3 linked regions of the Homo sapiens genome follow. The protein of the gene in region 1 purifies or fractionates together with the protein of each later gene. This does not show direct contact. Each region holds a gene or a part of one and is shown in the gene's direction. Other genes may lie near its edges. The genes, in order: PSD4, GULP1 and TYMS.

The links.
Region 2: the proteins of PSD4 (region 1) and GULP1 purify together in Homo sapiens (affinity purification with mass spectrometry; one large-scale study listed by BioGRID and IntAct). This does not show direct contact.
Region 3: the proteins of PSD4 (region 1) and TYMS purify together in Homo sapiens (affinity purification with mass spectrometry; one large-scale study listed by BioGRID and IntAct). This does not show direct contact.

What each region holds. Positions count from the first base shown.
Region 1 is NC_000002.12:113,190,915-113,194,567, forward strand, and holds part of PSD4 (PH and SEC7 domain-containing protein 4), read left to right. Parts: intron 1-1,465; coding exon 1,466-1,675; intron 1,676-2,133; coding exon 2,134-2,214; intron 2,215-2,343; coding exon 2,344-2,456; intron 2,457-2,677; coding exon 2,678-2,736; intron 2,737-2,944; coding exon 2,945-3,034; intron 3,035-3,653. UniProt on the Homo sapiens protein: Guanine nucleotide exchange factor for ARF6 and ARL14/ARF7. Through ARL14 activation, controls the movement of MHC class II-containing vesicles along the actin cytoskeleton in dendritic cells. Involved in membrane recycling.
Region 2 is NC_000002.12:188,592,331-188,595,983, forward strand, and holds the end of GULP1 (PTB domain-containing engulfment adapter protein 1), read left to right. Parts: intron 1-1,609; coding exon 1,610-1,681; 3' UTR 1,682-3,596; downstream 3,597-3,653. UniProt on the Homo sapiens protein: May function as an adapter protein. Required for efficient phagocytosis of apoptotic cells. Modulates cellular glycosphingolipid and cholesterol transport. May play a role in the internalization and endosomal trafficking of various LRP1 ligands, such as PSAP.
Region 3 is NC_000018.10:664,130-667,782, forward strand, and holds part of TYMS (thymidylate synthase), read left to right. Parts: coding exon of another isoform or gene 1-1,147; exon of another isoform or gene 1,148-2,267; intron 2,268-2,707; exon of another isoform or gene 2,708-3,550; coding exon of another isoform or gene 3,551-3,623; intron 3,624-3,653. Other genes in the region: ENOSF1 (mitochondrial enolase superfamily member 1), read right to left, coding at 1-1,147. UniProt on the Homo sapiens protein: Catalyzes the reductive methylation of 2'-deoxyuridine 5'-monophosphate (dUMP) to thymidine 5'-monophosphate (dTMP), using the cosubstrate, 5,10- methylenetetrahydrofolate (CH2H4folate) as a 1-carbon donor and reductant and contributes to the de novo mitochondrial thymidylate biosynthesis pathway.

The sequences.
Region 1 (3,653 bases):
AGCTCCAAGTAAACCTTTTCATTATTTACTATGAAAGTATGTTCTCATTTTAGTTAGATTTAGTTACTTCTATTTTGGGTTGGGTGAACTTTAATTTTTGGCATGAAGAAACTTCCCTTTTCAGAGGCTGGAACTTCTCTGGCTACCAAGCCTCTGAACCTCTCCACGGGGCAGCCTAGTTTCCAGATGCATAAGGAAGATGGTTCTTTGGTTTCTGGCACTGATTGACATTCTGTCACCATCACCCAAAGACCTTGTGATGGGCATGGGGTTAACCCTCCCATTAACCCTGACCCAGCTGTGTTAGATAGTGAGGGTGTTTAAGTGAATTCTAATGTTATATATCTGTTTATCAGGGATTGTTTTCTTTTTTTTCTTTTAGACGGCATCTTGCTCTGTTGCCCAGGCTGGTGTGCAGTGTCACAATATCAGCTCACTGGAATTTCCGCCTCCTGGGTTCAAGTGATTCTCCTGCCTTAGCCTCCTGAGTAGCTGGGACTACAGGCATGTGCCACCCTGCCTAATTTTTGTATTTTTAGTAGAGACAGCGTTTCGCCATGATGGCCAGGCTGGCTTCGAACTCCTGGCCTCAAGTGATCCACTTGCCTTGGCCTCCCAAAGCAGTAGGATTACAGGCTGAGTACTGCGCCCAGGCCCCTGGAATGTTTTCATATTATGATGTCTTCTGCTTACCAGTTCAACTTCCTAATTGTATCACTTGAATAATGAATGTTTAAATAACTGGAATACCCCACACTTGATTGTAATGTTGTCGGGGAAGCAGAAGAGTCAGGTTTAGATTGGATTGAGTGACATCTGAGAGTCTTAGTGCTGGACTGGGAGGTTCTGAGTCGGCTGGGGGTCACCCAGGCCTGTTCACACTAGGTCATAGGTCACCACTCAGTCTCCTTGTCATCCAGGCTGCTAGGTGGGGGAAGGGAGAGGCTGAGGACCACCTCCTGAACTACCCCAGCTGCTGCCATTACTAGAGCCCACCTAGCTTCCTGTTCTCAGCTCATCCTTACAGGTTTCTTGGCTCCAGATCTAGGAGTGGAGGCTAGAGCCAGAGCTGGGAGGTGGGGAAGGGACAAGGAGGTACAGGAGGACCACAGGACAGGTGAGGGAGACAATCCCACGTGCCTTGCATTGGAGAAAACAACGCTAGGGGCCTCACAGGGATGCACCTGCCACCTGAGGTGAGATAAACTCGGAACATGGCTGTGCTTTACCTGAGAAAGCGCAGGACCCCAGACCTGGAGACCTTGCATGAATACCTTCCTCTCGGGGTTCTCCTGGTCCCAGGCCAGGCTAAGTCAGTCTGGCTGTGACTCTGTCTCTTCCCTGAGTAAGGGCCTGGGTCCAGCTCCTCCGGGCCCCACCATTCAAGGCGCTGAGCTCGGGGAACTCTTGCCACAACTGACCTGCAAGAACACTTGACCCAGAGCTCCTGCATGTCTATCTCAAGTGAGAATCTGAGGACACCGATGAACTCTTCTTGGCTTCCTGGGAGCCCTATGCCCCAAGCACAGTCCCCAGAGGAAGGCCAGAGACCACCAGCTGGAGACAAGCTAGCTAATGGCGTCAGGAACAACAAGGTAGCCTGGAACTTGGCCTCACGCCTCTATCGCCTGGAGGGCTTCCGGAAGTCTGAAGTGGCTGCCTACCTGCAGAAGAAGTAAGGGGCTTTGAGCCTGGGGAAGGCTGGAGGCTGAGGCAGCCAGGGAGGAGCTGCTGAAGGGCTCCCTCCACTGGCCACCCTCCCCTTCCCGTCCCTGCCCTGTTCCCTTCCCATCTCCCCTCCTAACTTTTCCCCCATACCCTCACTGTATCTGCTGCTTACTCTCAGTCATGGTCCTCATGCTCTCCACACCCTTGGTCCTTGGTCCCCACTGCCTTGCCAACCAGACTCCACAGGTCTCTCCCAGTGTCTCCCAGTGTACACTGAATAGGGTAGCAGGGCATACCAGACCCTGGCTGCCCCCTTGCTCTGTCAGGACCCAAGGCCCAGCGTGCCTGCACCCTTCCCTTGCTCACCCCCACCGCATAATGTGTGCAGGCCCTGGGGGCCCCAGTGCATCTGCAGCCCCAGCCCAGGCCCCTGGTGCAGACTCCATGCCCCTTTTCCCTCTGCAGCAATGACTTTAGCAGGGCTGTGGCTGAGGAGTACCTGTCCTTCTTCCAGTTTGGAGGCCAGAGTCTGGACCGAGCCCTCCGGTAATGTCTTTGGGCCCTCTCTGGGGAGGCTGTGGAGGATGGCATGGGGCAGTGGCACCAGCCTGAGGCTGGGATCTGATTGGCCCTAAGCTCCCGGGCTCTCTCCTTGACCCTGGCCCTCCTTTGCAGGAGCTTCCTCCAGGCCTTGGTGCTCAGTGGGGAGACTCAGGAACGGGAGCGAATCCTCTACCAGTTCTCCAGACGCTTCCACCATTGCAATCCGGGGATCTTCCCCTCAGTAGGTAGGGAGGGGCTGGCCCTGACAGCAAAGCAGGGAAACTTTGGGGTGCCCATGTCTGCTTGGGAGTTCAGTAGGTGACAGTGAACTGGTGGGAGTGTGTTGGGGGCTGTGGAGAATGGAAGCATTCCAGGGGTTATTCGGTTACCCCACGCAGTGTGGGCAGAGGAAACAGGAGCCCTGGTTCCAATGAGCTTTCTCTCCACTTACCTATCTCTGGGGTAGATTCTGTACACACCTTGACATGTGCAATCATGCTGCTTAACACGGACCTGCATGGACAGGTAAGACGGTGGAGAGAGTCCCTGTGGGAACTGAGGCTGTAACAAGGGGTGCGGGGAGGAGAAGACCAGAGGCCTGAGACCGGGCAGGGAACACCCCTGAGGGATGTGGGCCTGGGGAGCTGGAAAGGGTTCCATGGTTGCTGGCTGGGAGGTTATTCTATTGGGATGGGGTGTGTGCTCGAGTCATCCCACTTCTCCGTGGCTACAGAACATTGGGAAGAGCATGAGCTGCCAGGAATTCATAACCAACCTGAATGGGCTGAGGGATGGCGGGAACTTCCCCAAGGAGCTGCTGAAGGTATGTGCCACGGGGTCTTCTTATGAGCCTCATGTAGGACCTGGAGCCTTGGTTCTTTGTTCCAAGGGAGATGCTGAGCTTGGGACTGGCTTTGCCAAAATATCCTTGAGAGAACAGGACTTGTTTATTGAAGGGCTAGTAAAAGTGTATTCCCTGGCGGGCAGCATCAGAAGCATCTTGGAATTTGTTATCCATGCAAATCTGCAGGCTCCCTGTGCTGGACTTATTGAATCAGACTCTCTGAGACTGGGACCCCTAAAATATTTTCTTAAGTTTTCAAGTCATTCTTACCCCTTCAAAGTCTGAGAAGGGCAAAGCTACACATGGTGAAAGTCTGGAGCTCAGACTTGGGAGCCTGGTGTTCCTGGGTTTGAATTCTAGTCTTGGGCAATTTGCCCCCTCTTGGCCAACTCAAGTTCTTCCTGAGAGTATTAACCACTTACCATGCCATTATCAAGATGAAATGAAATCTTCCAAGTGCTCAGCACGGTGCTTGGCACATAGCATGTGTGTCATAAGCAATTAAAATCATTTGCTGTTTCATCACAGTCACGCATCACTTAACGATGAAGGTGTGTTCTGAGAAATGCATCGTTGGGCATTTTCACTATTGTGTGAA
Region 2 (3,653 bases), about 75 Mb from region 1:
GAAGATGACATAATATACAGATCTTCAGATATCCAAATAAAATAATTTTAAAGAAAAGTTTACTTACAGTATTTTAGTTTAAAGTATTTATTTTTCTAAGTATTTGCTGGCTGTTTGAAAAATATAAATAAATATGGCAAAATGTATTTTGTGATAAGAATAGATTTTTAAAAAATAATGATAAGTAGTCTCATATTTACTCAACTAAATAAAGATTGTATTCCAAGTACTGGAAAGACATTTTGAAAAACTTTCACAATGATTACATCACTGTAATTGCTATATAGTAGTAGTCTCTGTGCTGTAAACATAAAGAATATTCTTTGAACATTAATAACAAATAAAGTATGGCTTACAGCTTTGTAACTACCTTCCTCCTCTATATGATGATGTTTACATTGGATTTATAGAAAGATAAGAACATTTACATAATTATTCTAAATAAAAGTAATTTGGAGAGATGCAAAAAGATACCCAATTAGCTAACATACAAGTAGATATAGTCAGTCCAATTAAATAAAACACCCAAAGCAGAGGTGAAAACCAATGGTTACCTTTAGGAGACATTTTGTTTTCTTTAGGAATACACTGCTATCTGCATATTATTTGCCAATAATGTGTTGCATGGCCACTCCAAATTACAAATTACCTTTCTGAAACATTTCAGTTCTGTTAGTAAGAAAAAAAAGGTAGAGTATGTAGAGAGCACTACCACATTTGCTTCTACAAGGAGACCTACAATGTAACCTCCACTTTCATTGATCAGTGCAAGTCTGTGCTTTTCATCTTTTTGTAGGCCAATGTGTATAGATTTACAGGAAAGGGTAGGAATGGGGAGAGGTGGCAAGACTGGAGATGGCCCACAGTTCAATTATCTTATGCAATAAAAAAAAAAGAGATTGGAGTGAAGGAGGACAGACTCCTATGCCATTATTTTAATTCAAAATCTTGGTGGAAAAACACTTTCTTAGCAATTGTGTTCTTATACTCAATAAATCATAGACAACTTAACTTCTAAAATATGCAAGGAAGAGTAGGAGTCAAAGAAGCCAGTCCGCTACAAGCAACAGCAAGGCTAGTAGGGGAAGTTTTCTCCATGGCAAAGTAATCTGCAGTTGTGTGTTCCACAGAGGATACGGCATTGCATTTAAAAGAAGTATTTTACCCGGGCTCTGGTCAGTGCTAACCAGGAATAAGGTGAAAATCATCAGGCTATCTTGAACCTCTCATCAATTTGAAGCCTAACTATCTTAATAATATTTAAATTAATAATAATTTTTAAAGCTAACAGATTTCATTTACAATAGAATGATGTAGTAACTAGCCTTTTCTGAAAAAGAAACCTTTATCTTAATTTTATGTTTTCTCTTCTGTCTCTCATGCATGCTAACCTCACATAGATTTAAAACATTAAAGTGTTAATGGGTCTGAAAGAACTACCAGTGCTATACACCTATATAAAAATTCAGCAAGTCAACATTTGACATATAGTTATTTATTAGTTGATCAAAGCATGAATATTTCAACTTTAGTGCATAGTCTTTTTTATTCACTGATTTTATTTTGCTGTAAGCATTTCAGATATTAATTATTTTATTCTGTTTTACAGGAGGGGTTCAAAATGGGACTAACTCTTGAAGGCACAGTATTTTGTCTCGACCCGTTAGACAGTAGGTGCTGACATCAAGAACAAGAAATCCTGATTCATGTTAAATGTGTTTGTATACACATGTCATTTATTATTATTACTTTAAGATAGGTATTATTCATGTGTCAATGTTTTTGAATATTTTAATATTTTGAAAATTTTCTCAGTTAAATTTCCTCACCTTCACTATTGATCTGTAATTTTTATTTTAAAAACAGCTTACTGTAAAGTAGATCATACTTTTATGTTCCTTTCTGTTTCTACTGTAGATGAATTTGTAATTGAAAGACATATTATACAAATACCTGCCTTGTGTCTGAGTTCTATTTAGTTAGCATCTTGAAATTTGTATTCATTTTCCAGATGGCTAGTTTATTAATGATTTCCCAAAAGCCATACCTTAAAGATAACTTTTTAAATTCTGAAGAGACATGCCAATGTCAAACTAAACATGTTCTGTTTTTAAACCAACAAACATGTTACTATTCATTGGACAGATATCATTTTATGTATAAATACTGTTCACATCACTGGGAAAATGTAAACTTTAAACATAATGCCACAAGGTCACTAATTTCTAGCAGGTAAAATTATAAGGATATAAATTCCAATAATAAACCAAATGTATTTAGAGTATTTATTAGTAAATGCAAGGTGATGTTAGTTATGATCAGTTATACTCTAAATATTTAATTTGTTTTATAAAGGTAGTGAAAAAATGAAAATTTGCTATTTATTAAAAAACATTAAATTTCATTCCAAATGAGATAAGTGATATTACTATAACATCTAAGCATCATCTGATTTGATATTCCCTAAAAAACATTTGGAATATATGCTATCTATAGATTCAGTATCTACTACCCATATTTACTTTACCAAATATATTTCTCCTCACTGCATAAGGACTACTCTTCTCATATTTTCTTCTTTGATGAAGATATTTTTCACCAAAGTTTATTTTGTGATGCCCTCTTGGTTTTGATACTTTAAAATCTGTGGCACCCGTTCTACATGAATTATCAATATTTGGTAAATTCAATCTGTATTTGTTTTGTTAAAGTCAAAAATCTCATTTTCCAAAAAAAAAAAAAAAACCCAGTTACTGCTCAGTTTAGTCTTGAACATGAGCAATAAAATTCTCTTGCATTTCATTATTGATGTGCTGATGAACCTGGACTTTTAAAAATATTTGTTTCCTATACCTTTACCCTTTACCTAACAGACTAATTTGTACTCAGTAAAACAAAAATTTATGGTCAAAATTTCTAACTTGGTTCATCACATTATAAGATAAATAAATTAAATTAATGAAAATGTGACTTAGAGTAGGGGTAGCCCTCAAAAATAGATTTATCATTTACTCATTGGAATTTTCTTCAAGTGTTAAAGGTACATTTTCACTAGGAAAAGAAATCAAATATGCTTATGCAATATATATTTGTGTGTTTTTCCTTAATGTTATATGGTATATATGAGCCTTCTTGTTTAGTTTCTTTTATCTGCTAAGTTGTACCTTAATTAGAGGGCAATATATGTTTCATAAAGAAGAGTCTTTATAATTTTGTTTGTCAGATAGTATTTTGGAATTTGTATAATAAGGATGTTTAGAAGCCATATAAGTGGCTTTTTTTAACAGATAGAATTTGTATTTTTATTGTACTTTAAAAAGATTTATGTAATAGGTATATATTTAGTGGCCATTTATTATCAATGGTAACACAATGGAGTACTAAGATGGTATTTGCACATTTAAGATATGTTACTTTACCAATTTTTAATGGTAATCAACTCTGCTACTGGCATGATGAAATAGTACATAACTGGTCATTAATTATGAACATTTATTTCTCCAGTGCGTTTTTATGAAGATCTGGTTGAAAATTGTATTTCTATGTAAACTCAACGATATGTTTGGTTTTCCTGAAAATAAATGATTTTAAATAAATTAAATTGCATAATTCATTTGTTAAATAATCTCTAATTAATACAGACACATTCTGAA
Region 3 (3,653 bases), on another chromosome or scaffold:
TGATTCTTCCTACCCATGAGCATGGAATGGTCTTCCATTTCTTTGTATCCTCTTTTATTTCATTGAGCAGTGGTTTGTAGTTCTCCTTGAAGAGGTCCTTCACATCCCTTTTAAGGTGGATTCCTAGGTATTTTATTCTCTTTGAAGCAATTGTGAGTGGAAGTTCACTCATGATTTGGCTCTCTGTTTGTCTGTTATTGGTGTATAAGAATGCTTGTGATTTTTGCAGATTGATTTTATATCCTGAGACTTTGCTGAAGTTGCTTATCAGCTTAAGGAGATTTTGGGCTGAGACAATGGGGTTTTCTAGATATACAATCATGTCGTCTGCAAACAGGGACAATTTGACTTCCTCTTTTCCTAATTGAATACCCTTTATTTCCTTCTCCTGCCTAATTGCCCTGGCCAGAACTTCCAACACTATGTTGAATAGGAGTGGTGAGAGAGGGCATCCCTGTCTTGTGCCAGTTTTCAAAGGGAATGCTTCCAGTTTTTGCCCATTCAGTATGATATTGGCTGTGGGTTTGTCATAGATAGCTCTTATTATTTTGAAATATGTCCCATCAATACCTAATTTATTGAGAGTTTTTAGCATGATGTGTTGTTGAATTTTGTCAAAGGCCTTTTCTGCATCTATTGAGATAATCATGTGGTTTTTGTCTTTGGATCTGTTTATATGCTGGATTACATTTATTGATTTGTGTATATTGAACCAGCCTTGCATCCCAGGGATGAAGCCCACATGATCATGGTGGATAAGCTTTTTGATGTGCTGCTGGATTCGGTTTGCCAGTATTTTATTGAGGAATTTTGCATCAATGTTCATCAAGGATATTGGTCTAAAATTCTCTTTTTTGGTTGTGTCTCTGCCCAGCTTTGGTATCAGGATGATGCTGGCTTCATAAAATGAGTTAGGGAGGATTCCCTCTTTTTCTATTGATTGGAATAGTTTCAGAAGGAATGGTACCAGTTCCTCTTTGTACCTCTGGTAGAATTCGGCTGTGAATCCATCTGGTCCTGGACTCTTTTTGGTTGGTAAGCTATTGATTATTGCCACAATTTCAGCTCCTGTTATTGGTCTATTCAGAGATTCAACTTCTTCCTGGTTTAGTCTTGGGAGAGTGTATGTGTCAAGGAATTTATCCATTTCTTCTAGATTTTCTAGTTTATTTGCGTAGAGGTGTTTGTAGTAATCTCTGATGGTAGTTTGTATTTCTGTGGGATTGGTGGTGATATCCCCTTTATCATTTTTTATTGCGTCTATTTGATTCTTCTCTTTTTCTTTATTAGTCTTGCTAGCGGTCTATAAATTTTGTTGATCCTTTCAAAAAACCAGCTCCTGGATTCATTAATTTTTTGAAGGGTTTTTTGTGTCTCTATTTCCTTCAGTTCTGCTCTGATTTTAGTTATTTCTTGCCTTCTGCTAGCTTTTGAATGTGTTTGCTCTTGCTTTTCTAGTTCTTTTAATTGTGATGTTAGGGTGTCAATTTTGGATCTTTCCTGCTTTCTCTTGTGGGCATTTAGTGCTATAAATTTCCCTCTACACACTGCTTTGAATGTGTCCCAGAGATTCTGGTATGTTGTGTCTCTGTTCTCGTTGGTTTCAAAGAACATCTTTATTTCTGCCTTCATTTCGTTATGTACCCAGTAGTCATTCCGGAGCAGGTTGTTCAGTTTCCATGTAGTTGAGCAGTTTTGAGTGAGTTTCTTAGTTCTGAGTTCTAGTTTGATTGCACTGTGGTCTGAGAGATAGTTTGTTATAATTTCTGTTCTTTTACATTTGCTGAGGAGAGCTTTACTTCCAACTATGTGGTCAATTTTGGAATAGGTGTGGTGCGGTGCTGAAAAAAATGTATATTCTGTTGATTTGGGGTGGAGAGTTCTGTAGATGTCTATTAGGTCCGCTTAGTGCAGAGCTGAGTTCAATTCCTGGGTATCCTTGTTAACTTTCTGTCTCGTTGATCTGTCTAATGTTGACAGTGGGGTGTTAAAGTCTCCCATTATTAATGTGTGGGAGTCTAAGTCTCTTTGTAGGTCAGATGATTGGCACTTACTGGGCGCTTGGCACTTTCCATACTGTGTCATCGGCAGATAGCTGCATGGTTGGTGTTCGTGCTGGGGAATGGGAAGTTCATCGGTGGGACAAGGGACAAAATGCCCCCATTGCTTTGTTGTGGCTTTAATCTCCCTTTCGAGGCTGAGCCACAGCGTGCTGTAGGTGGCGCTGCTGTGAAGCGCAGTGCCAGGGTCACACTCCACTCCCAGCTCTGCAGAGGTGGAGAAAGAATGAAACATCTCACTCCTGGACTTCCACTTTCCTGTCACTGTTGGTGTCACCTCTTACTGGATGTCACAGAGCCCAGCCCCTCCCACCTGTCCCTAGGAAAAGCAGATGCCACCTTGGAATGTGGGGTTTGTGTGTGCAATTTACTAGCTGGGCAGAGACCAGCAACCTGGAGAGCAGGTGTCTCATCTAAGGGGACAGTCACATTTCACCTCCAGCCACCTGGAGGAATTTGGGCCTGGTGATGTCAGAATTCTTCAATAAAAGCCTAAAATCTATATTTTATGTGCGGTCATGAGATCTGTTAAATGTTAGCAACTTCAGGAAGTTTAAAAATGCTGTGTGGACCTAGAATAGGCAAGTTCTTAAAGGCAGAAAGTGGAATGCTAGTTTCCAGGGACTGGGGAACAGGGAGGAATGGGGAGTTCATGTTTAATGGGCACAGAGGTTTTGTTAGGGATGACGAAAAAGTTCGGGAGATGGTGATGGAGATGGTGATGGTGATGGAGATGGTGATGGTGATGGAGATGGTGATGGTGATGGAGATGGAGATGGTGATGGAGATGGAGATGGTGATGGTGATGGAGATGGTGATGGTGATGGAGATGGAGATGGTGATGGAGATGGTGATGGTGATGGAGATGGAGATGGTGATGGTGATGGAGATGGTGATGGTGATGGAGATGGAGATGGAGATGGTGATGGTGATGGTGATGGAGATGGTGATGGTGATGGTGATGGTGATGGAGATGGTGATGGTGATGGTGATGGTGATGGAGATGGTGATGGTGATGGTGATGGAGATGGTGATGGTGATGGAGATGGAGATGGTGATGGTGATGGTGATGGAGATGGTGATGGTGATGGGATGGTGATGGAGATGGTGATGGTGATGGTGATGGAGATGGTGATGGTGATGGAGATGGTGATGGAGATGGTGATGGTGATGGAGATGGTGATGGTGATGGTGATGGTGATGGAGATGGTGATGGTGATGGTGATGGTGATGGTGATGGAGATGGTGATGGTGATGGTGATGGTGATGATGGAGATGGTGATGGTGATGGTGATGGTGATGGTGATGGAGATGGTGATGGTGATGGTGATGGTGATGGAGATGGTGATGGTGATGGTGATGGAGATGGTGATGGTGATGGAGATGGTGATGGTGATGGTGATGGTGATGGTGATGGTGATGGAGATGGGTGATGGTGATGGTTGCCTAACATCAGGAACGTGCTTAATGCTTCTGAATTGCACACAAAAATGGCAAGTTTAATATTATGTGTACTTTATCACAATGAAAAAAGCTGCTGCGTGGGCCAAGTTACTTGTGCAGGTAAGTGTTCTGCAGGTCGTTGCCTGCACC